4 separate regions of the Homo sapiens genome follow, and all the other regions are linked to region 3. Evidence: fine-mapped expression QTL. A gene starts in region 3. Each other region holds a variant in brackets. All regions are shown on one strand. Distances are between the middles of the regions.

Region 1 (7,535 bases), 87 kb after region 3:
CAGGATACATTTGCAGAACGTGTAGGTTTGTTACATAGGTGTACATGTGCCATGGTGGTTTGCTGCACCTATTGACCTGTCATCTAGGTTCCCTCCCCTCGCCCCTCACTCCCCAACAGGCCCTGGTGTGTGTTGTTCCCTTCCCTGTATCCATGTGTTCTCCCTGTTCAACTCCCAGTTATAAGTGAGAACAAGCAGTGTTTGGTTTTCTGTTCCTGTGTTAGTTTGCTGAGGATGATGCTTCTAGCTTCATCCATGTCCCTACAAAGGACATGATCTCGTTCCTTTTTATGGCTGCATAGTATTCCATGGTATATATGTACCACATTTTCTTTATCCAGTCTATCATTGATGATGCCCGGCTAATTTTTGTACTTTTAGTAGAGGCGGGGTTTTGCCATGTTGGCCAGGCTGGTCTCAAACTCCTGGCCTCAAGTGATCCATCTGCCTCAGTCTCCCAAAGTGCTGGGATTATATGGGTAAGCCACTGGGACTGGCTAATTATGCTTTTTTTTTTAACGGAGGAAAATGTTTTCATGGCATCTTCATCAGTACTCTGAACTTTTCCAGAGAGCTAAATTTAGGGAAAATTATAGTTATTTTTGAATTGTTATCACTACTTGTACCAAACAGAGGAGTATCTATAGATTTTCAGCTTTTTTTCTTAAGATCTTCATATATATATTGCTAAGGGTTTCTTTTTAAGTATGAGAATGCTTCCTCCAATTGATTTATATTGACCTGCTTGACAAAAAAATGTAAGAACCAGCTGTTCTACCATATACTGACATCATTTCCTGATTTAGCAATCACTAATGAACTAATCTGCAATTTAAAAAACATGCGCTATAGCAGAGCAGGCTACAGATTTAAGTCTGTCTTCTAACTCCTTTTGGGAAGCTTTTTTCTTGCTAACTCATAACTGGGTTCTTCCTCAAACACAGGCCTTTGTTGGTCTCCATTTCTGGTCTTGTTTTTTTTTTTTTTTTTGAGACGGAGTCTCAGTCTGTCACCCAGGCTGGAGTGCAGTGGCGTGATCTCGGCTCACTGCAACCTCCACCTCCTGGGTTCAAGCAATTCTCTGCCTCAGCCTCCCAAGTAGCTGGGATTACAGGCACATGCCACCATGCCCGGCTAATTTTTGTATTTTTAGTAGAGACAGGGTTTCACCATCTTGGCCAGGCTGGTCTTGAACTCCTGACCTCGTAATCCACCTGCCTCAGCCTCCCAGTGTGCTGGAATTACAGGCGTGAGCCACCGCGCCCGGCCTCCATCTCTGTTTTTTGTTTGTTTGTTTGTTTGTTTGAGATGGAGCCTCACTCTGTCTCCCAGGCTGGAGTGCAGTGGCCCAATCTCAGCTCACTGCAGCCTCTGCCTCCTGGGTTCAAGCGATTCTCCTGCCTCAGCCTCCCGAGTAGCTGGGATTACAGACTTGTGCCACCAAGCCCAGCTACTTTTTGTGTTTTTAGCAGAGATGGGGTTTTGCCATGTTGGCCAGGTTGGTCACTCCCGATCTCAGGTGATCCGCCCACTTCGGCCTCCCAAAGTGCTGGGATTACAAGCGTGAGCCACCGCGCCCAGTTTCCATCTCTCTTTGGTTATAATCTTGCTTCTTAAGATGTCATCTATACCATGGGTCCCCAACCCCGTGGGCCTCAGACTGGTACTGTTCCATGGCCTGTTGGGAACCAGGCTACACAGGAGAAGGTGAGCGGCGAGCGAGCATTATCACCTGAGCTCCACCTCCTGTCAGATCAGCAGCAGCATTAGATTCTCATAGGACCATGAACCCTATTGTGAACTGCACATGCCAGGGATCTAGGTTGCATCTACTGCCTGATGATCTGAGGTGGAACAGTTTCATCCCGAAACCATCTCCCACCACCACCCCATCTATGGAAAAATTGTCTTCCACAAAACCGGTCCCTGGTGCCAAAAAGTTGAGGACCGCTGATCTATACCATTCCCTTGTCAGTGTTAGCCTTTCGTTGGTCCTAGTAAACTCAATTGGGTTTGACTAAAACCCTCTTCTAGAAGCATCACACACATTTATCATCTAATTTTCAGGATCATGGCTGAAAAACGATAGTCCAACAAAAGTGGATGGGGCTTTTAATGGTGAAGAGGATATTGAGTCCTGAGAGTGGAATAACTACAAGCACGTGAATACATATCAGATCCTCAGTCATCCTGATGCACAGTTATTTAAATTTAAGCTCCATTTGTTTCTTCCCCTCTCCAGCCACCCCGTCCTTCAACCCTGCGTTTCTGGAGGTGCAGCTGTAACATGATCTGATCCTTTTTCATCTAGGGCACCACTGCCTATGTCCCACAGCAGTCCTGGATTCAGAATGGCACCATAAAGGACAACATCCTTTTTGGAACAGAGTTTAATGAAAAGAGGTACCAGCAAGTACTGGAGGCCTGTGCTCTCCTCCCAGACTTGGAAATGCTGCCTGGAGGAGATTTGGCTGAGATTGGAGAGAAGGTACTTGGGATAACAAGGGATCTTCAAGGGTGAAGGCATATTGAAGAGAAAAAGTGAGGATGGTGGTGAAGAACTACACAGGGGTAATCTAGTTGATTAATTTAGGTAGTCATATTTGGAATAAACACCAGAAATCATGTGTTTGTACTAAGTGGCCACAATATTCCATGTAAATAACTCAGAATTTCAAACTTTCTGCTTGGAAACAGATACAGGAATTATGTAATTTAAATCAAAGATGATGAGGCAAAGGCCATGAGAAGTTAACAGTGACTGGCCCAAGGTTGATCTCACAGGTGGTGGGGCAGAAGTGGGACCAGAGCCTAGGTGTCCTGATTCTACTTCTGTATCAGTGAGGCCAGAGGAAGATTCTACTAATCTGCTTTGAACACTTAGATGTTTATTGTGAATTATCTTTTGATGTTATTAAAGGCCTTTCCTAAAAATAGACTTTTAGGGTTGGGCACAGTGGCTCACGCCTATAATCCTAGCACTTTGGGAGGCCAAGGTGGGTGGATCACCTGAGGTCAGGAGTTCAAGACCAGCTGACCAACAAGGTGAAACCCCATCTCAACTAAAAATACAAAAATTAGCCGGGTGTGGTAGCAGGCGCCTGTAGTCCCAGCTACTCGGGAGGCTGAGACAGGAGAATTGCTTGAACCAGGGAGGCAGAAGTTGCAGTGAGCTGAGATTGCGCCACTGCACTCCAGCCTAGGAGATGGAGCAAGACTCCATCTCAAAAAAAAAAA[G/T]ATTTTTAATGACTGTATTGTATTTATTATATAGATCTAGCATAATTTATTTTGAAACCTCTAAATAAAGACCCTGCATATTTAGGATGTTTTCATCCTCCCTCCCCATTACTAGAAATAAATGTAGCAATCTTGGGGAACAAAAATCTTGAGATGTTAGAAGATTAATGAAGATACAGCTCTGGAGTAATTTTGTTCATTAATTAGCATACGCTTATTGAGCACCTACTATGTGCCAAACAGTGTTTTAAGTTCTGGAATTACATCCATGAACAAAATAGAAAAAACCTCTGCTCTACATTGTCACAGGGTGACAAGCAACAAAACTATTAAATAAGTAAATTATCTGATAAAAAGTGGTAAGTTGGCCATATCTAATTATTAGGACTAAAGTTATTTATTTGAATCAGTTCTTTATTTGTATAAAGGAACTTGTAAGATTTTTAACCCCTTGACACCTTATTGAGACAAATTTCTTCCTTTTACCCCTCCCTATTAGATTCTGTGAAGGTGGATCTAGGGAGTAGTGCTTAATATGAATTATTTTCTTCTTCAGGGTATAAATCTTAGTGGGGGTCAGAAGCAGCGGATCAGCCTGGCCAGAGCTACCTACCAAAATTTAGACATCTATCTTCTAGATGACCCCCTGTCTGCAGTGGATGCTCATGTAGGAAAACATATTTTTAATAAGGTCTTGGGCCCCAATGGCCTGTTGAAAGGCAAGGTGAGAAATCATTGAACATGATGAAGATATAAAGGTGGGGTGGGAGGGAGAGGGGAGGACATGTCTGGCAAGTAAGACAGGGAAGATGGTGGACATATGGTAATCAACACAACTTCATATTATTTTTATAGACTCGACTCTTGGTTACACATAGCATGCACTTTCTTCCTCAAGTGGATGAGATTGTAGTTCTGGGGAATGGAACAATTGTAGAGAAAGGATCCTACAGTGCTCTCCTGGCCAAAAAAGGAGAGTTTGCTAAGAATCTGAAGACATTTCTAAGACATACAGGCCCTGAAGAGGAAGCCACAGGTATGTAAGAAGGATTGGGACAAGATAGAACTTGGGCCATGGGTGGAATGGTAAATCAATATCTAATTCCTGAACTGCTCAGTATCCAGTGAACTAGATTTGGAAGCAAACTACCCAGAGATTCAAACTCTGCTTTCTGGGTTCTGTGTCTCTTTGAGGAAACATAGAAATTGAAACTCTATGCCTGGGCCAAACTGGTGACTTATCCTGCTCATCTGATGTCTGACACACAATCAAAGGACACTCTTTAGAAGGGTACAACTGAAAGTCTGAGTGAGTAACCCTTGTGGAAGAAACACCAGTGGCACAACGGTCCCTCTTTTAGGGATGCCATGTTCCTATTGACTCTAGTCACACATGTCATCCCATCTACCCCAAATCCATTAAAACCACTTCCTCGACAGCTTCATGGGCTGGCACTATTAGTGTACTGCTAAATTCTTGGTAGATCCTAACAAAGGGATTTTGATTAATATACCAAAACCACTGGGTGTTTGAACCAGAAAAAAATTATGGCAGTTGCGTAGTCTCAGAGTATACCATAGCAACAGCCTCTAATATCACCACCATTGGGTTCACCAGTTAGCCCCAGTCAGCAGTGGAGCTCTGTTTACTGTGACCCTTCCCAAGGACCTGCCAACAGCAGTCCTGTGCATTGGTCTGGTTATCACCCTCAGGTGGTTGTCACCAGCAGGAGTTCAGGTCGAGAAAGCCAGGGCAGAAGGCTGTAGAGGCATTCCAGAAATCAGTCAGATGAGGGAGTAGCTACACAGCCTACAAGTGACAGCATGTTCTGACCATGAGGTGAGGACAAGTAATGGTTTAAAACCACCCTGGGAGGGCCAGGCACGATGGCTCACGCCTGTAATCCCAGCACTTTGGGAGGCTGAGGCGGGTGGATCACCTGAGGTCAGGAGTTCGAGGCCAGCCTGACCAACATGGAGAAACCCCGTCTCTACTAAAAATACAAAATTAGCTGGGCATGGTGGCACATGCCTGTAATCCCAGCTGCTTGGGAGGCTGAGGCAGGAGAATTGCTTGAACCCAGGAGGCAGAGGTTGCGGTGAGCTGAGATCGTGCCATTGCACTCCAGCCTGGGCAACAAGAGTGAAACTCCATCTCACACACACACACACACACAAAACACAACAACAACAAGAAAACCACCCTGAGAAGCCCAAGAGTTTGAAAGAAAAATCTAAGCCAGGGCTGGATGTGGTGGTTCACACCTGTAATCCCAGCCCTTTGGAGGCCAAGGCGGAAGGATCACTGGAGCCCAGGAGTTTGAGACCACCCTGGGCTATATAGTGAAACCCCATCTCTGCTCAAAAAAGACAGAAGAAAAATCTAAATCAGGAAGTCTGTAGCTTTGGAAGGAGAAGGCGGGAACAAAGAACAGGATGGTGTAGGTGACAGGAATTGGGAGCCAGGCCAGGAGAGTGGGGCAGGAGTATCAGGGACCAGCAGAAAGGAGCAATTGAAAGCTTTGCATCAGCCTTTATGTGCTCCAGGTAGTAGCGTGGAGAAAACAAAAAGCACCTGTGAAGGGGTGGGTTGCCCCTCCACACCTGTGGGTGTTTCTCGTAAGGTGGAATGAGAGACTTGGAAAAGAAAAAGACACAGAGACAAAGTATAGAGAAAGAAATAAGGGGACCCGGGGAACCAGCGTTTAGCATATGGAGGATCCCGCCAGCCTCTGAGTTCCCTTAGTATTTATTGATCATTCGTGGGTGTTTCTCGAAGAGGGGGATGTGTCAGGGTCACAAGACAATTGTGGGGAGAGGGTCACAAGACAATTGTGGGGAGAGGGTCAGCAGACAAACACGTGAACAAAGTTCTTTGCATCATAGACAAGGTAAAGGATTAAGTGCTGTGCTTTTAGATATGCATACACATAAACATCTCAATGCTTTACAAAGCAGTATTGCTGCCTGCTTGTCCCACCTCCAGCCCTAAGGCGGTTTTTCCCTATCTCAGTAGATGGAACATACAATCGGGTTTTATACCGAGACATTCCATTGCCCAGGAACGGGCAGGAGATAGATGCCTTCCTCTTGTCTCAACTGCAAGAGGCATGCCTTCCTCTCATACTAATCCTCCTCAGCACAGACCCTTTACGGGTGTCGGGCTGGGGGACGGTCAGGTCTTTCCCTTCCCACGAGGCCATATTTCAGACTATCACATGGGGAGAAACCTTGGACAATACCTGGCTTTCCTAGGCAGAGGTCCCTGCGGCCTTCCGCAGTTTTTGTGTCCCTGGGTACTTGAGATTAGGGAGTGGTGATGACTCTTAACGAGCATGCTGCCTTCAAGCATCTGTTTAACAAAGCACATCTTGCACCACCCTTAATCCATTTAACCCTGAGTTTGACACAGCACATGTTTCAGAGAGCACGGGGTTGGGGGTAAGGTCACAGAATCTTAAGGCAGAAGAATTTTTCTTAGTACATAACAAAATGGAGTCTCCCATGTCTACTTCTTTCTACACAGACACAGTGACAATCTGATCTCTCTTGCTTTTCCCCACATTTCCCCCTTTTCTTTTCGACAAAACCGCCATCGTCATCATGGCCCGTTCTCGATGGTCGCTGTCTCTTCGGAGCTGTTGGGTACACCTGCAGACATGTGATAAGTGAATCTACTGATGGGACTGACAGTAGGTACTTCTACCAACCAATTTTGGACTGCAGGCATTAAACATCCTGGTGCTCTCCCTAGGCAAATAGGAGGATAACGATACCCAATGGAAATATTTATCATCATCCCTTCTTCCTCAGGTTTGGCAGGGCAGCGATCATCTGTGGGGCCAGGTACCCATACGCTATCATTAACATATACTTCTATAGGATTATCCATCCATGTGACTGCCCGAATTAAGGGCGGGAAAGGCACATAGGCCCAGTAGGTATAGTTAGCTGCAGCTGCTCCTGCAGGCATAGGGAGACTTACCACCGTTGATACAATCATCAAGGCTGCAAGCAGCATACTCTCTGGGGTTTGTGTCACCTTTGTGTTCTCTAGATATTTTGTAGCTAACTGCGTCAGCTTCTTTAGTTGTGCCCAAGTTGGCGGCTCTGCCTTCTTGGTGGATGGCAACTTCATCTGTTCTTCTGACGTCACCATTTTGTTCATCTTGTGAGTCAACGGTGCTCGACTGTGGTGTCTCCGTCTCCGCGGAGGTGCTTTTCTTTGCATCTCCGATGGGTTCATTGTAGAACTTCAAATGTCTAGTGCGTATCCAAACAGGAAGCTGATTTTCTCC
Region 2 (7,535 bases), 26 kb before region 3:
TGACAGAGTGAGACTCTGTCTCAAAAAAAAACAAAAATTGTTTTAACATAAACAAAACTAGAATAGTGTAATCAACTCCTGTGTACCTGTCACCCTGCTTTCCTACTAACATTTATCAGCTCCTGGCCCATCTTGTTTTTATCTGTTTTCCCATCCACAATCCCCCTCTTACTTCAACTGGGTTGTTTTGAAGCTAATCCCAAACATCCTATAATTACATTTGTAGATATTTTAATATGCTCTCTGAAGATAGGGACTCTTAAAAAAAAGAAAAAGAAAAACACAGCCACAGTATCATTATTGCCTTTGTGGTAAACACAAGATAAGTAGGCTGACTTAGAAATAACCCACTTAGAGGTGAGGAAGGTGAAGCGGGAGGAGGTAGGTCTTTTAATAACTTGTGGGAATACGGAGTGGCTTATTGCAAAGGAAAGTATTAGAATTCTTTTCTCTTTTTTTAAAATTTAATTATTTTTGTCACACAGATATCAGTGTTTTAAATCGGCTTGGATGTACCAAGTCTTACATGAAGGATTCCACTTTCCCTATGACTACCCAAACCTGCGGACAGCCCAGCTGGTGTATGACCGAGAGGTTCAGTGGACGCTGGGAGCCATTCTATATAAAACACGATTCTTACCACTCAGGTAAAGTAAGACTGACCAATCTGGTATCTTGAGCTCAGAGGATATCAGTTGATGCCTCAGAATCGGTTTCTTTCTTTTTTTTTTTAACCAGCTTAGAATAGGTCTTAAGTGACCTTCCTCTCTACCCCCTCACAAAAACAAACTCCTTTACTTCCATGTGAGCCACTGTTACTACCAGGCATGCTCGAACAGAAAGAAGGTTGAGCATTACTGGTCTGGAGTCTCAGCTTTGCTGTTTCAGAAATCCAGCTTTATTTGTTTACTCACAACAAACCAGTCTTTAGGACTGAGCTCTTACTAATCACTTCCAAGATACTGACAAGCTAAAATGTCATTCTTGGGTTACCCTGGAAAACACATCTGACTAAAGAACAGGGGTAGGATGTCTAGAGCAATCTTTCATAACATACAGAGGCACTCCAGACATTGTGTCATTGACTTAGAAGGCTTTTTGGTGGGTCAGAATTAGAATAAAGGACGTGAGATGTTTTTAGTGGGGCTACTTTCATCAAACTCTGGTAGCCTGATACCTTACTTTTATGTACTGTCAGATATTTGGGACAATTTTTAGGTACCTGTACCCTGGACTATTTCAGATAAACTCAGATGAATTTTGTATCTTTGATGTCTGTTCCTCTAAACTCAATACCGTCAGCAGCCAGGCAGGCGACAGAAGTGAGGGAAGTGGGCTAGGTGGGGGTTGCCCACAACTGGAGCATGTATCCCAGTTAATGGGCTGGTTACTGTCACACACAAGCACTGTCCCAGCATTTGCCAGTTCTCATCTGTCCAGAAAAGTCAGAAATCCATATTTTTTATGAAGTCTTTCAGTTTAGAGATTCGCATTCTAGAAGAACACTGCAGGTCAAACCAGACAAAACTAGATCTGGATCTGGACTGCTGAAGAGTGGCTTCTGTTCTAGCCAGGTGGACCATTACACTTGGTTTTCATATCGCCTTATTTTTATCTGACTGTAATACAGTTGATCAGGTAACAGCTTTATTTAGATATATCCTAGATCCTAAGGAAACATAGTACCTTTATTTTTTATTATTTTTTTGAGACAGGGTCTTGCTCTGTTGCCCAGGCTGAGTGTGGTGGCAGTGCCGTGTTCATAGCTCACTGCAACCTTGAACTCCTGGGCTCAAGTGATTCTCCTGCCTCAGCCTTCTGAGTAGCTGGGAATACAGGTGCTCGCCACCATGCCCAGCTAATTTTTTGATTTTTCTTTTGCAGAGATGGGGTCTTGTTATGTTGACCAGGCTGGTTTTGAACTCCTGGCTTCAAGCAATTCTCCTGGCCTGGCCTCCCAAAGTGCTTTGATTACAAGCATGTGCCACTGCACTTGGCTGCATAGCAACTTTAAAAAAAGGATTTAGACACACACACTCTGATTTCTTTATTGGATTCAGGGGATACCCTATTCTCATTAGTACTGTATTTATAAGCCATATTTTAAGACTTATGTTACAGGTGATCAATCTAGCCTTTCTGTTCATTTTTTGGGATTCAATTTCAAAGGCCTTCCCATCTTGGCTTAGATTCTGGAGGGTGTAAGCCTGGAGGTCCCTTCTGGGGGCCGTGGGAAGGAAGACACAGAAGGGCTCCTGGGGCGGGGGATGTTCTTCAGCTTTGCCTGCTCTGTGGAGCTGGTGTCATAAAATGTTTATGTGGATGGAATAAATGTGATAACACTACTGGGCCTTTCAAATCAGTAAATGTCTCCCTTTGAAACTTAACAGTTTTTTCCACCTACAAATTCTTAATTCTTCCCTAGGGATCTTCGGCAGGAAGGTGTCCGACAAGCCCATGGTAGCTGGTTCCGTCTCTCCTTTGTATACAACCACTATCTCTTCTTTGCCTGTATCCTGGTGGTGCTACTGGCCATCTTCCTATACCTTCTGCGGCTACGCCGAATTCACCACCGACAAACACGAGCCTCAGCTCCATTGGACTTGCTGTGGCTTGAAGAGGTGGTGCCCATGATGGGAGTACAGGTGGGGCCGTGAGGCTGGACCAGGACTAGAGAAGCTTGAGCACCCCCGAGTTGCTGCTCATTGAATTCCTCCACTTTCTTATATAGCCTCAGATGCTGTGATGTCTGACCTTGTGGATATTTGCCCTTGGAATTTCTACTTTACTTTCTACCGTAATTCCTTCTCCGTACCCAGGTCTTCTCTGAGAGAAGCTATAATTTAATCTGTGAGGAACTAAATGACAGGAGATTGGTGCTAATACGGGGGACCAAGCTTTGTCCAAGTGAAGCAGGCTTCGACTCCTTCTGAGAGGTCTGGTGTGTTCCTAGAATCTCACCTTTTCTTCCCTTGCTAAAGCATGAAGTTTGGCATTTGGCACACTGGAAGCCTGGTTGAAATGAAATTTGTAGCATCTGATACAAAGCCAGAGACATTCTAGCAAGTGCAGCAGCCCCTTCTTTCTCTGTAACAGAGATATCATTTATGTGGAGATCCACAACCTTTAACAGGGATCCAAGATCTTTGCAGTTCAATCGACCACATAGGAATTTCCAGGCACCAAAATGATATAACTTCCTTGCTTCCTTGACAAAGAAGCCATCATGGGTGTGATCCAAGATCCCTGTCGTAGTGTTGATGATGTTAGTACATGATTTTAAAGGTTAGAACCCCTTCTAAATGAATGGTCTGTGGAAGATTTTAGTATCTTATCTGATGCCTGGTATGATGAGGATAGAAAATTTTTCCATTTTTATGTGCCTCACAGGCTGTTTGGGCATTAATTTTGCTTTTTGAGCCTTAAGTGTGTTAGTAGGATGGAGAAACTGTGATGGGGACTGGGAACCTGGATTTGTCTGATTTTAGGTCACTGTTCCCTGGGCCTGTTTTTGTGAGCCCTTACACAGGAAGATATAAAGAGAGTTCTTTCATTTCACTGCTAAAATCAGTATGTAGTATGGGGAATGTATTTGGGTTGTTTTTAAAGAAAAGGGGAACAGAATCAGGAGAGTGGGCAAAGGCAATAAAATCAAAGTTCTTATTAATTATTTCTGAGAAATAGAAGTTTCTCAATTTATGACTCTTGGAATGTCTGAAAGGGAGCAAATTTGGAATAGATCAATCTGTTAATAAGCCATCTGGCAACTTTCAGAACCTCTATTAAGAGACTGCTGAGTCACAAACAGCACTTCCATTAATGAAGCGAGAGGAAAAGCCATAATAATTACATCTTCACCCACTACCCTTCCAGAGCTTTGCTTCTCCTCCACATTTAGCCATTAAATTGCATGAGGATTTCTCTTCATCAGGGTCCGCATGGAATCTTTCTTATATTTTACCCTTTCCTACATGTAGCCTTGAATGTCCTTTCCACGAATATGCTCCCACGGCTGGGAGCATTTTCTTTTCTTTTCGTCACCTTTGATTTTTGGGATTAGATTAATAGGGGAAAAAGTCCCTGGCTTTAAAGAAAACAAAAGTAGAATTCTTCAAAAATAAATTTCATACTGGGAACAGAAAGGAACTAAATGCTTCATAAAACAGGGAAAAAGAAATTAAGATCATCCTAGAAATAAACTAAGATAAAAATAAGTATACTGACCCTTGGTTGGTAGATAAAAAGATGACCAGTCTTGTATTGTTTTAAAATTAGATAAACATGGATTAAGCATGCAAAGACTCTGTTCCTTTTTTTTTTTCTTGGAGACAGGGCCTCACGCTGTCACCCAGGCTGGAGTGCAGTTGTGCAACATCATGGCTCACCGCAGCCTCAACCTCCTGGGCTCAAACAGTCCTCCCAACTCAGACTCCAGAGTAGCTGGGACTACAGGTGTGCGCCACCACACTCAGCTAATTTTTTATTTTATTTTTTTAGAGATGGAGTCTGTGTTGTCCAGGCTGGTCTCAAACTCTTGGGCTCAAGCAATCCTCCCACCTCAGCCTCCCAAAGTGCTGGGATTACAAGCATGAGCTACTGCACCTGCCCTCTGTTTCCTTTGGAAATCTCTTACCTTTCATTAGGGTTTCTTTCATAGCAATTTCCTTTGGTTTTTAAGACTTCTACATTGCTTTTTCTTTTATTATCTGTGCTCCGTGAACCTTATGAATGCTGCTTAAAAATAATGTCAAAATATGTTTTAGCTGCCTACTCAGGTAA[C/T]GTTTTCTTTTGCTCTCATCTTGGTTTCCATATACTATTTTTGGTTTTTTGTGAGATCTAATCAATGATCTAGTCAGAAGCTACTTCACTGGCTAACAGTGATCATGTTCATGTGCTAAAAATGAACTTGAAACACGGAAGTAGTGGTTGGTCCAGTTTGAAAGCTCTTATTAGTATTCTTCATCCTGGCTGTAATAATAGCCATTATTTGTTATGCCTTTGTTATGTAGCAGACACTCTTAAGGATTTTATGTGTATTATTCAAATTGCTATTACTGTTCTTTTTATAGTTGAGAATCTCAGGATACCTACATTTATCACTTTTTCAATATATATGTATTTCTTATTCTTATTTTGTCTTGGAGTGTTTAATGTGTTATTTCCTGTTCATTACTTTAATATTATGGTATCTAGGCTTGTCTTTATTACCATGAGCAAGGTCTCCAGGAGTTCCACAGTACTGAAGGAAAATTTTGTCATATCCCTCAGAAGAACTGAATATTTATTATTGGTATGGGCTCCTTTGTTTATTCTCTTCTCCCAATTAATAGATTTTAAATGAAATCTTATTAGCTAGAAACAAAAGCCACTTACTCCTTGCTGAGAGCCAATTACTTAAATATATTTCTTCCTTATAATAAAATAATTTGCTTCTAGGAGCAGAAATCTATCTTGCCATACCCTTTGGTTTTTAAAGATTTCTCTTCTATTTGCATTTCTGCACTTTGGTGGTTCTCCCATGAAGATAATTATGGTGTCATAAAATTCACATTCCACTGGTTCCTTTGAATCTTACCAACCACTCTTGTTAACAGAGACAATGAACCTGAACTGTTTTAGGACTCTTGTTATTACTGAGACAGGTCACAAACATCAAAATAGGAGTCCGTGGCTTGTAGTGATGCTTTTTAGTCTTGTGATAGCACAATCCATCACTTTCCCCAAAATTCTTGTCATAGAACATAATGAAAAATATGTAAAATACCCATTTATGTGGCATTTCATTCACTTAAGTTGCAGTTAACTCTAAGCCAAATTATACCATTTTTTCTCTCTGTACTTTAGCTCCTTGAATTTCCTTAATCTGGGAAACTTTTGTTCCCACACCAAGGAACAAATTCAGGGGGTACAAGTGCAGGTTTGTTACATGAGTATATTGAGTGATGCTGAGGTTTGGGGTACAGATCCCATCACCAGGTGGTGAGCATAGTACCTAACAGATAGTTCTTTAATCCATGCCCTCCTCTCTCCCTCCCTGCTCTAGTAGTCCACAGTGTCTATTCTGGTCTGGGAAATTTTCATCACTTTCCACCAATCTTCTATTTATTCTCCAAATGTCTTCCAAAGTATCCTGCCCCACCCCCTCCTCATCCTAAGAGATTCCTTTAACTTCAAGATCATATCCAGTGATTGCTGAAAAATGTCTGCCATGCACTTGCTAAGCTAGTGTTTTTAGGCATTAACATTTATTATCACATCCATATTTATATTTTTGAAATAATTTATACTTCTCACTGATATCATCTAAACAGATGCTTCTCACAGTTTTATGTTTTGTTTTTTGTCAGGGATGAAAGACAAGTGAGTGGTATCACTTAAGGGAAAGAACAGTAGGCTTAACGAATAGCAGACCTGGATTCTAGTTCTGGCTTTGTCATTTACTAGCTCTGGTACCCCAGGCCAGTCACTTACCATCTCTGGTTCGGTTCTCATCTATCAAACAAAGAGGCTAGACAAGATTAGAAACTAAAGGCAGAAGACAAGGTAGAAAAATCATATGATTTTGGGAAGAGCATTTTGTCCTTTGGTTTAGAAGACCAGGCTGCCCAAAAGAGCCTCCTATTTTATCCATAACCCCTGATGATAAGGTTGGTGGGAACAGAGTTTCTAATAGTAATCATAATAAATTTCAGAAGAGTTTTAAAGCTTCTGGTCAACCCCCTTGATTTATATGGGTGATAAAACTGAGGCCTAGAGCAGTTGTAATATGTGCAAAGTCATAGTGACTGGCCTCCTAGCCCAACTACTTTGTCAGCTACAATGAAATGCTCATTAACAGAATCTTTCTGCAAGTATAAACAGAATCTATTTTTTATAAAACAGCTGGCCACAACTAACCATGCCCCATCTTTACAACTGCTTCTGACATTCATTTATGACTGCTTTGCTCACATTTAGGAATAAACTTTGAAAAAAATACTTTGTCAGAAATAGTGCCAAGTTTTCACTACATCTATTCTTGTTCCTGTATTTCTTTTCGTACTTTTAAATTTTATACATCTTTTTAAAACAATTTTATACAATTTCCTTTACTACAACATCCAAGCAATTCATTAGATGACTACAGCCTAGATGAAGGTATAAATGCCTATTACATCTACCTCATTAAAGAACTTCGTTGTAATTCTTGGGCAGTTTCCAGACTCTGTTACAGAAACAGAGGGCTGTTTCTTTTTGTTGTCTTTAAACTTTTCAAATTAATTCAAAACTAGTATCTAATTGTCCTTTTTGCTGTGGTATGTGGTGTAATGTTGATTGGGAATAAGAATTATGGTAGAAATAGCAGATGTTTCAAATTCTCCCATATTAGTCTCTTAGGGACGCTAGCTCCAGATTCCAGCCCCTGGGGCAATAACTTGTGAGGATTTTCCTGGTGTTACAAAAAATATTGCTGTTAAAAAACTAAGACTCAAAACCAAAAGTTGTGATTAATAATAACAGGATTATTAGTCAATAATATTTTGATTAATACTATA
Region 3 (7,535 bases):
AGCCAAAGAAATGTGTTCTAAATGCATAACCAACATTCCTTACCCAGGGAAAAGAGACCTGTTACATGTATACAGGTTTAGATTCTTGGGTGAATTTAAAGACAATAAAATTCAAATTTGTTTCACTTGCTCATAACAACCTATATAACACATAAGGTATTTTGAAATAAGGGACGTGGAATGTGAAGAGAATTTGAGGAAGACACATTTGATTAAAACTAGAAACTTTTTTACCAAAAGGAATTAGGATTCCTAGAGTAAAAGCCTGATTTTAGGCCTGAGGCAAGAAATGCACAAGATGAGCTCGGAACATCTTGTCATACTAGAAAGTAAGGAAACTATCAAAGGTAATTAGGGCCCTGCCAAAAAGTCACTAGAGCCAATTTCAGGAGATGCCCACTGACTAAAGATGGGACAATCTGAGCAAATCACTAACACCATCATCACAACGGACCGAAACATTATCGAGTGTGTTTGAACCTATGATCTCATAATGAGCCTTAAAAATTCAAATCCTTTATTTGTTGCCTTTGGAGGATTTGGGGGACCAATTTATTATTTTGAAAATTGGTAAATAAAGGGAAAGAAGAATCAAGTATGTATCCTGCCTTTCCTATACAAACTATACCTTGGGATATCCAAACTGATGATGAGGGAAAGCTTTTTAGAGTTGAGCTAATAAAATATTATAATTTTGCTACGCTAATGAAATAATGGATCTAGGCAATGGTAATTAATGGCTGTTAACATCTATAATAGACACCAGATATTCACGAATGTTCTATTCACCTACTGAAGTATTTTGCTCCCTCATCCCTAATTTGAATCTGATCAACCAACTACTCATTCACAGGAAATAGACGGGACAAAGGAACATGTTAAATATCACACAGTTATGCAGTCAGCAAAATCTAAACTGTGCATAACCATAGGACAAATGACTAGAGTTTCCTCAGCAACTAGAAGAGGGGGAAAGGGAGGAGTGTCTAAATCTATAGTCTCTTGATAGATTTAAACAAACCTAAGAAACATGAACCAATTGTGATGTACAGAACTTCTTTGGGTTTAATTCAAACAAACTGTAAAAAAAGTTTTGAGACAAACTTGGACTCTGATTGAAAGAGAAAAGATACATAAACAATGCACAGGTACCAGTTAAGACATAAACCAGTCTTTATAGAAGGCTCCTACTAATAAAACACTCAACTGTTCTATGGCAGGGCAAGCCATCAGACATGTTCCTTCTTTAAGGCCTCGGTTTCTCCATCTATACAATGAGGGAGCTAGACTAGATGCTCTGTAAAATTCCTTTCTCCAGCTGGGCATGGTGGCTCATGCCTGTAATCCTGGCACTTTGGGAGGCCGAGGTGGGCAGATCACCTGAGGTGAGGAGTTTGGATCAGCCTGGCCAACATGGTGAAACCCTGTCTCTACTAAAAATACAAAAAATTAGCCAGATATGGTGGCACGCGCCTAGTCCCAGCTACTTGGGAGGCTGAGGCAGGAGAATCGCTTGAACTCAGGAGACGGAGGTTGCAGTCAGCCGAGATCACACCACTGCACTCCAGCCTGGCCAACAGAGCAAGACTCTGTCTCAAAAAAAAAAAAAAAAAAAATCCTTTCTCCTCAGTCAACCTGTGCTTCTACTGATGATCCAAATACCTGACTCACTACGAGCAAATTACTTACCTAGTTACTCCACCAAGAATAACTGCTCCAGCCACTGTTCCACTGCAGACCAGGAGCCATCGGCCCACCACCCGCTCAGCAGCCTTTGAGGGAAGGGACACTGTACCCCTTCCAGATTGCAAAGCTACTTCAGAGATGGTGCTGTATTGCCCTGGCCTCAAAGGGCGCCTGATGCAATCACACTAAAGATCAAGATAGACAAATTACAACTGGAGAAACAGGGAATGGCTGCTACCCACACTCAACCCCATTCTGATTAGCGCGAAGTACCATAGCATCCCCACAGCCATGTCTTGTTAAGTCATCATCTCTTATCTGGATTACTGCATCAGCCTTCCAACTGGTTTTCCAATTGGTTTTCAAATCTAGCCTCACTCAAACCTATCCCCAACTACATGAATCTTCTCATCTCTGAATACTTCCCTCAGACTTCACTCTACTTACAGATATGGAATATTTTCTTTCACCTCTAGGTCTTTCAACATTTCTCTCTGGCTTGTACACTTCCTTTCCCCTGATTAATAATACCTACTGCAGATCTCCGCTTACATGTCACCTCCTCTGGGATGTATTCCCAGGCTCTTCAAGGTCTGCAATAGGTCACTCCCACAGCACACTGGAAAGCCCTTAATACACTGTAATGTACAGTCAAGCATCACTTAACAACAGGGGCACATGTTCTGTGAAATGCATTCTTAAGCAATTTCATCATTGTGTGAACCTCATAGAATGTACTTACACAAATCTAAAGGCTGGGTGTAGTGATTCACACCTGTAATCCCAGCACTTTGGGAGGCAGAGGCAGGGAGATCACTTGGGTCAGGAATTCAAGACCAGCCTGGCCAAAATGGTGAAACCCCATCTTTACCAAAAATACAAAAATTAGCTGGGCATGGTGGTGTATGCTTGTAATCCCAGCTATTTGAGAGGCTGAGGTGGCAGGATCACTTGAACCTGGGAGGCAGAGGTTGCAGTGAGCCAAGGTCTCACCACTGCACTCCAGCCTAGGCGATGAAGTGAGACTCCATCTCTCAAAAAAAAAAGTACTTACAGAAATCTAGATGGTATCGCCTACTACACCCCTGAGCTATATGGTATGACTTATTGCTCTTAGGCTATAAATCTGTATGGCATATTATGTACCGAATACTGTAACACAATGGTATTTGTTTATCTAAACATAGAAAAATTACAGTAAAAATATGGTATAAAAGATTTAAAAATGGGGCCAGGTGCAACGGCTCAAGCCTATAATCCCAAGGCTTTGGGAGGCCAAGGTGAGAGGATCACTTGAGGCCAGTAGTTCGAGACCAGCCTGGGCAATGTAGCGAGACCCCCTATCTCTATTTTTTCAAAAATTAGGCACAGTGGCACACACTTGTAGTCTTAGCTACTTAAGTGACTGAGGTAAGAGGATGCTTGAGGCCAGGATTTCCAAGCTGGAGGCTGCAGTGAGTTATAATCATGCCACAGCACTCCAGCCTGGGTGACAAAGTAAAACGCTGTCTCTAAAAAAGAAATTTAGAGAAAAAGATTTTTTTTTAAAAAAAAGGTACACTTGGAAAGGCAGCTCCATTATAATCTTATGGGACCATGACTGTATCTGTGGCCTGTTGTTGACCAAAATGTTGTTATGCAGCACATCACTCTACCTTCAGGTTCATCTGTTTGTATCTCCCACTAAACTATGAGCTTTGGGGTGGCAGTGTCCGGTCAGTCTTGCTCTCTCCCTTCTGCTAGCTTTGTTTCTAACACTGTTCCTTTATATAATGAGACCATGATAAGGATTTCGCAAATGAATAAACTGACTTCCTCCAGGGCAGGAGTCTTGTAATATTTATCTTTCTTTTTCCAGTTCCTAATATATAATAACCACTCAATAATTACTAGTTAAGCAAATGCATGCCCTCTTCTTACTATATCCCTGTGAGTCCAAAGATCCATGCTCGGTTTCCTATTTCTGATTAACTGAGTCACCTTTAGAAAAGTAACTTTAAGCCTCAATTTCCTTCTCTGTAGGATGCAGTAATACTTCCTCATCTGACTACTTGGAACTTTTTAAGCAAAAATAAACTATATGGGTAAAAATTACTCAGCTTTTACCATGTGCTAAAGGCCTGATGTATATTAAAGAATGTAATCCTCATAACAAACCTTAAAGTAGGTATTGTTATCCCCATTTTACAGATAAGGAAACTGAAGAACAGAAAGTTTAATTAACTTGGCCAATACCACACAGCAGGTCAATGTTCCAGATCTGAACCTAGGGGCTCTGATCTGAACCTATGCGTTGTGAGTGCACTGTAAGGAGCTCCGGAAACGTGATGTGGGGCTCTACATTATCTTTATCCCGGCCCTTTCACTCCATCCCCGCTCCCGCGACTCGGAGTCCGCTGCAGTGCGGTACCTGTGCTCTAGGCGCTGCCCTAGGAGCCAGGAGCGGCAGATACTGCCTCCCCTTCAAGGCCCTCAACGGCGGAAAGAGCAATCGCTGCATACTGATGACAGGGAACAGCCACCTCTTCCACAACCCAGGGCTCTGTGGTCTCCCTCCTCCGCCAAGGAAAAGAGAAGCACTTCCGGGTCGGGCAGCGGGAGCCCCGCCTTCTCTGGGGACCGGAGCGAACAGAAGTGCGCCTGCGTTGCGACTCCGCTTTCGCGGGGGCTGCTGGGGCGTAGGTGTCGGGGACGCGCGCACGGGCGCGCGCAGCTGTTGACGCGCTTCTTAGCTGGTGCGCGCCGGAGCCCAAATTCCAAGTGGAAACTGCAGGCGCACGAGGGAGGAACGCGTGGAGCATGAAAAGGCAGGGGGCCTCCTCTGAGCGAAAACGAGCGCGGATACCGTCCGGGAAGGCCGGTGCGGAAGGTGGCGGGGGAGGGGACGGTCGGCCGAAGGCTCCCCGGGGCGGGCCGGCGGGAGTCGTAGTCAGTGGTGATTTCTTCTGGAGTCGTTTCCTCAGCTCCTTCCAGCCCCTTGGGCGGCACCTTCTATCTTTGAGGCGTTAAAGGTGTGGAAACGGAGGGCGTGACGAGGGGCAGGTAGCGAGAATGGCTCAGCTGTGGAGCCAAGGTTCGAGTCCCGGGGTCCCCTCATAACGGCCCTGCGACCTTGTGCAAGTTGGTTAACTTCAGCTTCACGTTTTTTCCGTCGCCACACGAGGATGCCAGTACCGCCCGCACCAGCAGCCAGTACTCCGCTGGGATAGTTAATTGTCGAGCGCGGAGCCCAGTTCCTAACCTGCAGTTACCTGTAGCTGCCACGGCGGGGACGGGGCTTGGTCCCCAAAGTCACGCAGCTACCAAGTGGCCGAGCTTGTGGCTGCTCCAAGACCCGAGTTCTTCCTGAGTGCCAGGGTAGCATGGCATGGCAGGTGCCAGAGAATTTGGCAAGTCCCTCTTCCTCCGTGAAGAGGAACCTTCCTAAAAGTTATCAAGAATCCTCAAAGATTTTTTCTTTATGTGGATTACATCTATCTATTTTGACTGTATTAGAAATTAAAACAAATTTTTTTTTGGGAGGCCGAGGGGGACAGATCATCTGAGCTCAGGAGTTCGAGACCAGCCTGGCCAGCATGGTGAAACCCCGTCTCTACTAAAAATACAAAAATTAGCTGGGCATGGTGGCAGGCGCCTGTAATACCAGTTACTCGGGAGGCTGAGGCAGGAGAATCACTTGAACCCGGGAGGCGGAGGTTGCAGTAAGCCGAGATCGCGCCACTGCACTCCACCCTGGGCGACAGAGCGAGACTCCGTCTCAAAAAAATAAAAATAAAATTAAAACAAAATTTTAAAATATTGATTAGAAAATAACCATAGTAAACCCATTACATATTGACATAATATTTTTTTGAAAAAGAAATATTCCTAAACAACAACAACAAAAAAAGCAAAAGAGTGGAAATATATTTTTGCAAGTTTCTTCAGTATATCTTAATGGAAGACAGCTGGATTCTCATGCCCGCTGCTTCATTCAGTCTAACATGTCAAGTAGCCTCTTGAAAACGCCTCTTCACGGAGGTTGCAGTAAGCCGAGATCGCGCCAATGCACTCCATCTTGGGTGACAGAGTGAGACTCTGCCTCAAAAAAGAAAACGCCTCTCACTTGTGAGAGAATTAAAGTGAAAAAGTCAAATAAAGTGTTAGAATTATTAAGAAAACGGTTGTAGCCCTGCAGACTCTGAAAAGTCTCAGAGGCTCCCAAAGCTCTCTGGACTACTACACTTTGAGAACTGCTGCTGCTTCTCCTTTGATCCTATAACTTTGTTGCTTGGGACAACTGCCTTGCTCTGCCTTCTGTCATAGCCTTTTTTATACATCTCTCCATCTTCTCCTGCCTAGGGTCCTTTCTTGTGTGAGGCAAATAGTCCCCCGGCAGCATCAGCATCGGCCAGTGCCACTGATCTGACAGCTGGTCTGGTAGCTACCAGGAAACTCATGGAGTTAATAATGCAGAGCTGTTGGTTAAGAGCATAGATTGACACTTAACCCTTTCACAGTTTGGGACTGATAGTATTTTTTTTTTTTTTTTTTTTTTGAGACGGAGTCTGGCTCTTGTCGCCCAGGCTGGAGTGCAGTGGCCTGATCTCAGCTCACTGCAACCTCCACCTCCCAGGTTCAAGCAATTCTCCTGCCTCAGCCTCCTGAATAGCTGGGATTACAGGCGCCCGCCACCACGCCCGGCTAATTTATATACTTTTAGTAGAGATGGGGTTTCGCCATGTTGGCCAGGCTGGTCTCAAAATCCTGACCTCAGATCCGCCCACCTTGGCCTCCCAAAGTACTGGGATTACAGGCGTGAGCCACCGCGCCGGACAGGGACTGATAGTCTTAAATAAGTAAGGCAATTGCAGTTTGATGTTAGCAGATGATAGGTTTTTGTTTTATTTGTTTTTCAAAGTAAAAATTGCTTTTTTAAATTATAAAAGCAATATTGGGTAGAAAAAATAAAGCAATAAAGAAAAGTAAAAAGAAGAAAATAAAAATAATTTCAAATCACACCCCACCAGAAGTGACCATTACCAGTATGTGAGGAACATTCTAGTAAGTGTCATTACATGAAGTGTGCATTGTTTCGTTCATTTTTTTAAATTATGTGCTCCCGGAAAAAAACTCAAAACTCTGTTTACATCACACTTTGTAATATAAATACATTAATTTTGTTGTAATTATTCAGCTTTTAGTAAATATTTGATTATTGTGTACCATGGTAGATACTGTGCTTGGTGTGGGTGATGATAAAGATTTCTCACATAAAGACCTTACTTAGGAGGCCAGACGTGGTGGCTCATGCCTATAATCCCAGCACTTTGGGAGGCCGAGGCTGGCAGATCGCTTGAGTGCAGGAGTTTGAGACCAGCATGGGCAACATGGCGAAACCCCATCTCTACAAAAAATACAAAATTAACCAGGTGTTGTGGCACATACCTGTAGTCCCAGCTACTGAGGAGGCTGAGGCACAAGAATTGCTTGAGCCTGGGAGGCGGAGGTTGCAGTGAGCCGAGATCATGCCACTGCACTCTAGCCTGGGCGACAGAGCAAGACTCTGTATCAAAAAAAAAAAAAAAAAAAAAAAAACAAACTTAGGAACTCTAAGTCAAGTAGAAGTGATCAGATATTTATCTGCATAAATAATAAAAGGTAGAAAGTAATTCATATTTTAAGAAGGAACAATTGGGGTTTCATAACTCATGAAGAGTTAAATGAGTTCAAAAGAGGGACATAAAATTTTCTACTTTGGGAGACAGAAAAAATCATGGAAATGTTCCTTGAAAAATTTTATTCAGAGATGAAGCCAGAAGGAACTCTGGGTTGAGGAGAAGGCATTGGGGAGCCAGCGGTAGGGACTG
Region 4 (7,535 bases), 130 kb before region 3:
AACAAAACAAAACAAAACAAACAAACAAACAAAAAATGTATAAACAGGCCAGTTGCAGTGGCTCATGCCTGTAATCTCAGCACTTTGGGAGGCAGGTGGATCACTCGAGGTCAGGAGTTTGAGACCAGCCTGCCCAACATGGCGAAACCCTGTCTCTACAAAAAATGTAAAAATTAGCCGGACATGGTAGTGTGCACCTGTAGTCCCAGCTAGTCAGGAGGCTGAGGCATGAGAACTGCTTGAACCCAGGAGATGGAGGTTGCAGTGAGCCAAGATTGTGTCACTGCACTCCAGCCTGGGCAACGGAGCGAGACCCTGTCTCAAAAAATACATCTATCTAAAAGTAAAATAAATAAAAGATAAAGAGAGAGTGAGCCAGGTGGTATCTGGGGAAGAGCGTTCCTTGCAGAGGGAACAGCAAGTGCAGCAGGGTAGGATCACACGAGACAATGGATATGACAGCCCTGGGCTGTCATGTAAACACAAGGACCCTCCAAGCCGGCCACTCCTCACTGGCCTCCTGAACCTCTGACAGCTAGCAAAGAAGTGACCAATTACAAAAACCTAAGTATTACACTTTACATTTCCAAAGGTCCTGGGTCCCCTCCCGTGAGCACCACTCCAGGAACAGGCAGAAAGAGAATGGAAACAACTTTCCTCATGCCTCTATTACAGCACTTACGTCTCATGATCTCTTTACAAATCAGTCTCACCCCTGGGACTGGGCTCCTGCAGGCAGGACTGCTTCTCACTTCTTAGGGACCCTGAGGGGCACTGGCGAGCCACACTACCTTTGGAATCCTGCGTTGGAACGCTTGTTCTGTCATGTTCTTGCTGTGTGAGTTCAGGCATGGTTTTTTTTTTGCCTTTCTGAGCCTGAGCTTCCTCATCTGTAAGATGGGGGCATTTTTATAGCTAATTCCCAGAACTGTTTTGAGAATCAACTGGGCCCAGCATACTGTAAGTGCAAAAGTGTAGGTAAATTATTGTCATTGCTCACATTCTGAATGCCTGACAGTAAGTGCTCAAAAAATTTGGTAGAATAGAACTCAAGAGTAAGAAAATCCTCCAGGAAGAATTTCATGTTTAGAGCTGCTGCTATTTCGAGGGGATGTGCTTACCCTGCAAGTACCCAGGGAAGGATATAGTCATCTGTCTGAGAACACCTGTGAGACACGACATTGACTCAAGTTCCTAATCTGATCCCTTGCTCCAGAGCCTGTTTTGATGTCCTGTTCTTAGGTAGAAACCTTGTCAAACCATTAACATGATATGAACAGTTACAGTGTCTGATCTTCACTGGAAGCTAAGAAGTAGCATTCACTCCCCCACATATCTTTGGATGTCTTCCTGCTCCCACTAGCCTCCTCTGGAGCCATGTATGGGCCTTTCACTCACCCCACCCTGCCCCTGGCACTGTGTTGTAGCCACCTCTGAGATTTGTGGAAAGCAGTCTTAGAATAAGGTGAGCTAGGCAGAAGATAAAGCAGGAATCTCAGGATTTAGCCTTAAGTTCTCACGTCCTGGAGATGAGACCTGCAAGGACCATCTTGGCAATGTAATTGTGTGGGTTGGAAAAATGGAAAGAAGCAGCTCATCATCCTGGATAAGGGAGGATTTGCGGAAAAGGGAAAGAAGCGCTTGGTGCTTGGATTCTGACAGTAGGCTGATGGCTGGAGGCGGCTGGGCAGTGGAAGTGGATTCCCAGCGGCTGGCAGGAGTATGTGGCAGACAGGGCTGAGGAAGCTGTCTCCCCGGGGATAGCCTCCTTGCTTGCTCAGATTCCAAGTGACCGTCAGCATTTTGTTTGCTTTCCTGAGACCCAGCCCTGGCATGAAGAAATAATGGTGACCTTGAGACCCTCAACAAGCTGAATTACTAAACTTTGGTAAATCAATGCCAGGAATTGAGAGTGTTTAGCTCAAGTGGGCAGCAGACCTAGGCCAAAATGGCATTACAAAAACATGGAGGTCACTGTTAACACTGTGCACATGAAGTCAAAGTGGAAGTAAGCTATTAAGATCTTAGTATGAGTCAAAAAGGGCCGGCTGACAGTCCTTGGCTATATGACTGGGAGCAAGTGCCTTAACCTTTCTCAACATCAGTTTTCTCATCTATAAAACAGGAATAATAATTCCTGCCACATCTGACTCATAGGGTTCTCATGAGACTCAACATTTGAGCAAATTTAGAGCACATGATATCAAGTGATAGTACATGACTTCCTTTATGTTTCCCGCAGAGAGTGGTTGTGAGGCTCACCTGAGCAGCTACCTGCAATGATCAGCACATAATAGATGTGCAAGAATTATAATTCAATTGTTGCTTGTAAAAATGCTACACGTGAAAATGCAATATAAGTGCACAGAGTATTATAAAGTGTCAATTCTTATTTTCATCTTTTATTCATCTGCTAGCAGATAGGATTAATACACGATCCCACAGTCACCTGTCCAGCCAGGTAAATTTTTCCATCCCTGGTCCCAGGGGACCTCAGTAACTTCTTGCCATCCTCCTTACTCCTCAAGTCAGCCCCACACACGATCTCTTCCTCCTGAAGAACAATGCCTCTTACAGGCACAGGACTCCAGTCCCCTCCAATTTGGTCTTTGAAGCAAGACCTCCCTTTTCTGCTCTCAGGATCAAGCCGCCTCTCCTCCATACCTCCGCTTCTTCCTTGAGCCATGACTGCCAGATGGAGTGCCCTTGTCTCACCTCTCTTCTTTTTTCAGGCTCAACTCTTCTTCAAAATTCATACCCCTTCCTCTGGGAGCTTCCTCTGATTTACCCCACCCCACAGATCACTCAGCTAGTGTGGGCTCGGTTTGTGTTGTACAATTTGGCTTTTGCTGACGCTTGATTTTCTAAACGTTCTTTCAGCCCTGTGGCAGGGACTGCATCTTCTTCTGTCTTCACCTGTGCCTAGTGGAATATACTGTTTAAAGGAGGCAATCCAGGGAGAATATTCCTTGACCAAGTGTCCCTCACCTTATTGTTTGCCTTCCTAGGCCCCTCTCTAGCAGCAGAAGCTCCCCAAGGAGCAGTGCCACCCTTCAATGAAAAATCTTGCTTTAGATGTCAGTGGGGGTCCCTACCTCCCACCATACCCAGGGAAAGCTTTCAGTTAGTGCCTGCAGGGGACTAATTCTTCATGACTCACGGCTTTTCTATTCAGGTATAATTGCTCTTGTTCTCCAATTTGGCAGGGGCCTTGCAGCCAAAAGAAACCTGTGCAGGGAGTAAATCAGAGCATTGGGTCAGTTATCTTTGCAATGAACTGGGGTTTTTCTTCTAGTTTCTTTTTCTTTTTCTGTCTTTCTTTCTTCCTCTTTTTTTTTTTTTTTGAGACAGAGTCTTGCTCTGTCACCCAGCCTGGAGTGCAGTGGCGCAATCTCGGCTCACTGCAACCTCTGCCTCCTGGGTTCAAGCGATTCTCCTGCCTCAGCCTCCCGAGTAGCTGGGATTACAGGTGTGTGCCACCACGCCTGGATAATTTTTGTATTTTTAGTAGGGACAGGGTTTCACCACATTGGTCAGGCTGGTCTCGAACTCCCCACCTCAGGTGATCCGCCCGCCTCGGCCTCCCAAAGTGCTGGGATTACAGGTGTGAGCCACCACGTGCCCAGCCTAGTTTATTTTTCTTTTCTTTTTTTTTTTTGAGATGGAGTCTTGCTCTGTGCCCTAGCTGGAGTGTGGCAGTGTGATCTTGGCTCACTGCAACCTCCGCCTCCGAGGTTCAAGCA[G/A]TTCTCTGCCTCAGCATCCTCAGTAGCTGGGATTACAGGCACCCGCCACTATGCCCAGCTACTTTTTTTGCATTTTTAGTAGAGACAGGATTTCACCATCTTGGCCAAGCTTGTCTTGAACTCCTGACCTTGTGATCCACCTGCCTCGGCCTCCCAAAATGCTGGGATTACAGGCGTGAGCCACCGCGCCTGGCCTAGTTTATTTTTCTATGTATGCCTATAGACAGATGCCCAGGCTGTGTCCCCACCCCCACCATGGTGTGGTTCTAGGCATGCCCTGGGAGGACCAGAATCTAAGACGTCTGAGCTGATGTCACTGGTGGGGAAATGCTTAGAAAGAAAGAGCAATCCTGAGTTTGCTTCAAGGTACAGATTTGCTCCCACATTTCTCTTCCATTTTCCTTTGGTTTCTGTTCCCTCTGCATTTATGTGCATGCTCAGCAGTGGACATATAAGATAAAGAAGATCCTGTCTGTCCTGAGAGTCTCACAGTCTGGCAGAACTTCCTACCCCACTAGTGGGAAGCCTCTTAGAGGGTCCCTGGATTCCTGCTCTTCTCTATTGTGCTCCTAAATTTTGAGGTTAAAGATCATTTTAAGAATCTTATGGATTCTCTACCCTTGCTCCAAAGGCAGACATATTCAATATTTTGCATAAAACTCCGAGGGGTTTATAGACCCGGTAAAGCCCATCCACAAAATCCACAAGCTCCACTAAAAAAAAAGTCAACAAGGATGAGAAGGGGGAAGAAACTTAGAATGGAATACAAATAGAAACAAATGCATCCTTTTGTAGCCCGTGAACATGATGATTTGGGTTTTCACACACATGTGAGATGTGCCTCCTTCAAACCTTAAGACATCAGCATGTTACCTGACGTGAAAAAAAAGGAATGAACTTAACTCATTTTAAATAACTCTATTTTAAACAAATAATATTGCGATGCTGAAGGGAGGATAAAAACCAAATAAACAAGCCCAACAAATATTTAATTCTAGTTAGAAGGAGTTTTTTCTGTAGTGATATGGGTGAGCAATTCTGAAATACCTTTTGTGTGCTGTAGAGTTGCACAAATGAGTAAATGTACTGAGGATATTGGAAGCTAGTTCTTGCTGTTGGAGAGGAGAGTTATAAATATGGAGAAAGGGAGGACTAAAATGAATTTTGTGGTGTTGAGTTGGAACTGGAGGTATCTATATGAATCCATGATTTTGTGTGTGTGTGTGTGTGTCTGTGTGTACAGATGTAGAAATTAAGATAAAATATGTATATTTCTTAGCTCTGTGGGCTAAAGGGCCTAGAAGTAGACACTACAGTAGCATTGAGTATACCTGGCACTTGGATCTTGGTTTCTAAATACCATTTCGTACTAAAAAAAAAAAAAAAAAAAAAAAACTAGGGCTCCTTGGAGAAATGACTAATTCTAGGACTGAGAGGGGGAAAGTACAAGATAAGCTTAGAATATCGTGTTGTGCCAGAAAGCAAGGAAGTGCTTTTTAAAAAATGGAGATATAGAAAAAGAACACAGGAATCAGAAGGGACCCCCATTGGCCAAATCTGGGAGTATTCGAACATCAGCATAAATAATGGTAATTATTTATTATCATCACAGTGGTATTACAGCACAATATTACAGTGGTAATATCACTATAGAATAGCCATAGAATAAAATAATCTATGAGCTCATACGAATATAAATAAATAAAAGAGAAGGGATAGCTCTCTCTTATAGCAGAAATGATAACATCAGAATATCATCTTTGTGCAACCATGATTTAGACAGGAATTATCAATGGATGCTAAAACTAGTGGATAGAAGTTTGATAAAGAAGAGGATATGTACATAGATTCAGAGCACCCCCATGAAAATAACTTATTGATTACAAAGGGAAAATTAGTAACTCCATGGTGAGTTCCTCTGATGAACACAACCATAACCATTTAATCACAGTTAACAATACCAATAAAGGGATGCACTGACCTCACTGCCTTGAAAAGGACTCCATATCATTTCTATGGTACACCTGCCAAAACTATAACCTTAATCTAATTATGAGGTAGCATCAAACAAACCAAACTGAAGGGCATTCTACATAACAACTGGCCTGTAATCTAAAAACAAACAAAAAAGCAAGTTCATGAAAGATAAGGGAAGGCTGAGAACCTGATCTAGATGAAAGAAGATTAAAGAGATATGAACAGTAAATGCAATGTGTGATCCTGAATTGGATGCTGGATCAGAAAAAAACCAGCTATGAAGGACATTATTGGAGCAATTGGTGAAATTTAAATATAAACTATAGCTCAGATAAGCATTTTGTATCAATGTTACAAATTCCCTGATTTCCATAAATGTGTTGGGGTTATGTAAGAGAAAATTCTTTTTTTTTTTTTTTTTTTTTTTTTTTTTTTTTTTTTTTTTTGAGACGGAGTCTCGCTCTGTCACCAACGCTGGATGGAGTGCAGTGGCGCGATCTCAGCTCACTGCAAGCTCCACCTCCCGGGTTCACGCCATTCTCCTACCTCAGTCTCGCGAGTAGCTGGGACTACAGGCGCCCGCCACCACGCCCGGCTGATTGTTTTGTATTTTTAGTAGAGATAGGTTTCACCGCGTTAACCAGAATGGTCTCGATCTCCTGACCTCGTGATCCGGCCGCCTCGGCCTCCCAAAGTGCTGGGATTACAGGCGTGAGCCACCACGCCTGGCCGAGAAAATTCTTGTTCTTAGGAAATACTGACATATTTATGGATAAAGGGGGCATAAATAGTTCAGAAAAAATATGTGTATGCACATATATGGATTGATAGAAAGACAATAGATCAAATGGGGCAAAATTATAGCAATTAGTGAATCTGGTAAAGAATATACTGTTTTTGCAACTTTTCTGTAAAAGTGTGAAATTATATAAAAATTAAAAAGTAGATAAAAAGAGTATTTGCTCTAAGCTGGAGCCCTTTTTTTTTGGAGACAGAGTCTCGCTCTGTCATGCAGTGGTGGCATGGTGTGCAGTGGTGCGACCTTGGCTTAATGCAACCTCCTGGGGTCAAGAGATTCTCATGCCTCAGCATCCTGAGTAGCTGGGACTACAGGCATGTGCCACCATGCCCGGCTAATTTTCATATTTTAGTAGAGAAGGGGTTTCACTATGTTGGCCAGGCTGGTCTCAAACTTCTGACCTCAGGTGATCCGCCCACCTCAGCCTCACAAAGCGCTGGGATTACAGGCACAATCCTACCATGCCCAGCTAAGCTGGAACTCTTTTTTTTTTTTTTTCTTTTTTTTGAGATGGAGTCTTGCTCTGTCGCCCAGGCTGGAGTGCAGTGGCTCGATCTCTGCTGACTGCAAGCTCCGCCTCCTAGGTTCACGCCATTCTCCTGCCTCAGCCTCCCGAGTAGCTGGGACTACAGGCACCCACCACCACGCCCGGCTAATTTTTTTTTTTTTTTTTGTATTTTTAGTAGAGACGGGGTTTCACCATGTTAGCCAGGATGGTCTCGATCTCCTGACCTCGTGATCTGCCCGCCTCGGCCTCCCAAAATGCTGGGATTACAGGCGTGAGCCACTGCACCTGGCCGCTAAGCTGGAACTCTCATACATTGCTGGAGGGAATTCAAATTGCTACGACCTCTTTGGAACTTCGGTAATGTCTTCCAAGGCTAAACACATATATCCCTGTCACCCAGCAAGTTTGCTTTCATATTTAACCAATGGAAAAGAGTGCTTCTTTCCGCTAAAGGACAGGTACAAGAATGTTTATAGCAGTAAAAACTGGAAATAGTGGAACACTGGAA

Direction of the effects. Positions count from the first base shown, and alleles are read on the strand shown. Sizes are in standard deviations (SD) of each study's normalised expression. Not every link is listed here.
For the expression in B cells of the gene that starts at base 4,264 in region 3, G is the low allele of the variant in region 4 and A is the other (moderate effect, 0.59 SD a copy in Schmiedel 2018).

The links. PIP is the estimated chance that this variant, and not a neighbour inherited with it, causes the effect.
Region 1: its variant is the best candidate, but not a certain one, in a credible set for the expression of COX15 in whole blood (TOPMed, PIP 0.82).
Region 2: its variant is the best candidate, but not a certain one, in a credible set for the expression of COX15 in whole blood (TOPMed, PIP 0.84).
Region 4: its variant is the best candidate, but not a certain one, in a credible set for the expression of COX15 in B cells (Schmiedel 2018, PIP 0.54).

Annotation. Positions count from the first base shown.
Region 1 is chr10:99,814,997-99,822,531 of GRCh38, forward strand. It overlaps ABCC2 (ATP binding cassette subfamily C member 2), which reads left to right. Exons shown (of 32, transcript NM_000392.5): 17 at 2,312-2,488; 18 at 3,794-3,961; 19 at 4,093-4,273. Among named protein-coding and RNA genes, the nearest start is that of ABCC2, 36 kb to the left of the region's middle. The variant G/T (reference allele first, on the strand shown) is at 3,238.
Region 2 is chr10:99,702,027-99,709,561 of GRCh38, forward strand. It overlaps ENTPD7 (ectonucleoside triphosphate diphosphohydrolase 7), which reads left to right. Exons shown (of 13, transcript NM_020354.5): 12 at 486-647; 13 at 2,426-7,535. The coding sequence ends at 2,657. It also overlaps a transcript of COX15 not described here. Among named protein-coding and RNA genes, the nearest start is that of COX15, 26 kb to the right of the region's middle. The variant C/T (reference allele first, on the strand shown) is at 4,780.
Region 3 is chr10:99,727,864-99,735,398 of GRCh38, forward strand. COX15 (cytochrome c oxidase assembly factor COX15) reads right to left here and starts at 4,264. Exons shown (of 9, transcript NM_078470.6): 1 at 4,097-4,264; 2 at 1,690-1,871. The coding sequence starts at 4,186. It overlaps CUTC (cutC copper transporter), which reads left to right and starts at 4,371. Exons shown (of 9, transcript NM_015960.3): 1 at 4,371-4,546. The coding sequence starts at 4,486. RefSeq lists an enhancer at 3,966-4,185.
Region 4 is chr10:99,597,254-99,604,788 of GRCh38, forward strand. It overlaps LOC124902589 (small nucleolar RNA U13), which reads left to right and starts at 4,527; the gene lies at 4,527-4,627. The variant G/A (reference allele first, on the strand shown) is at 3,744.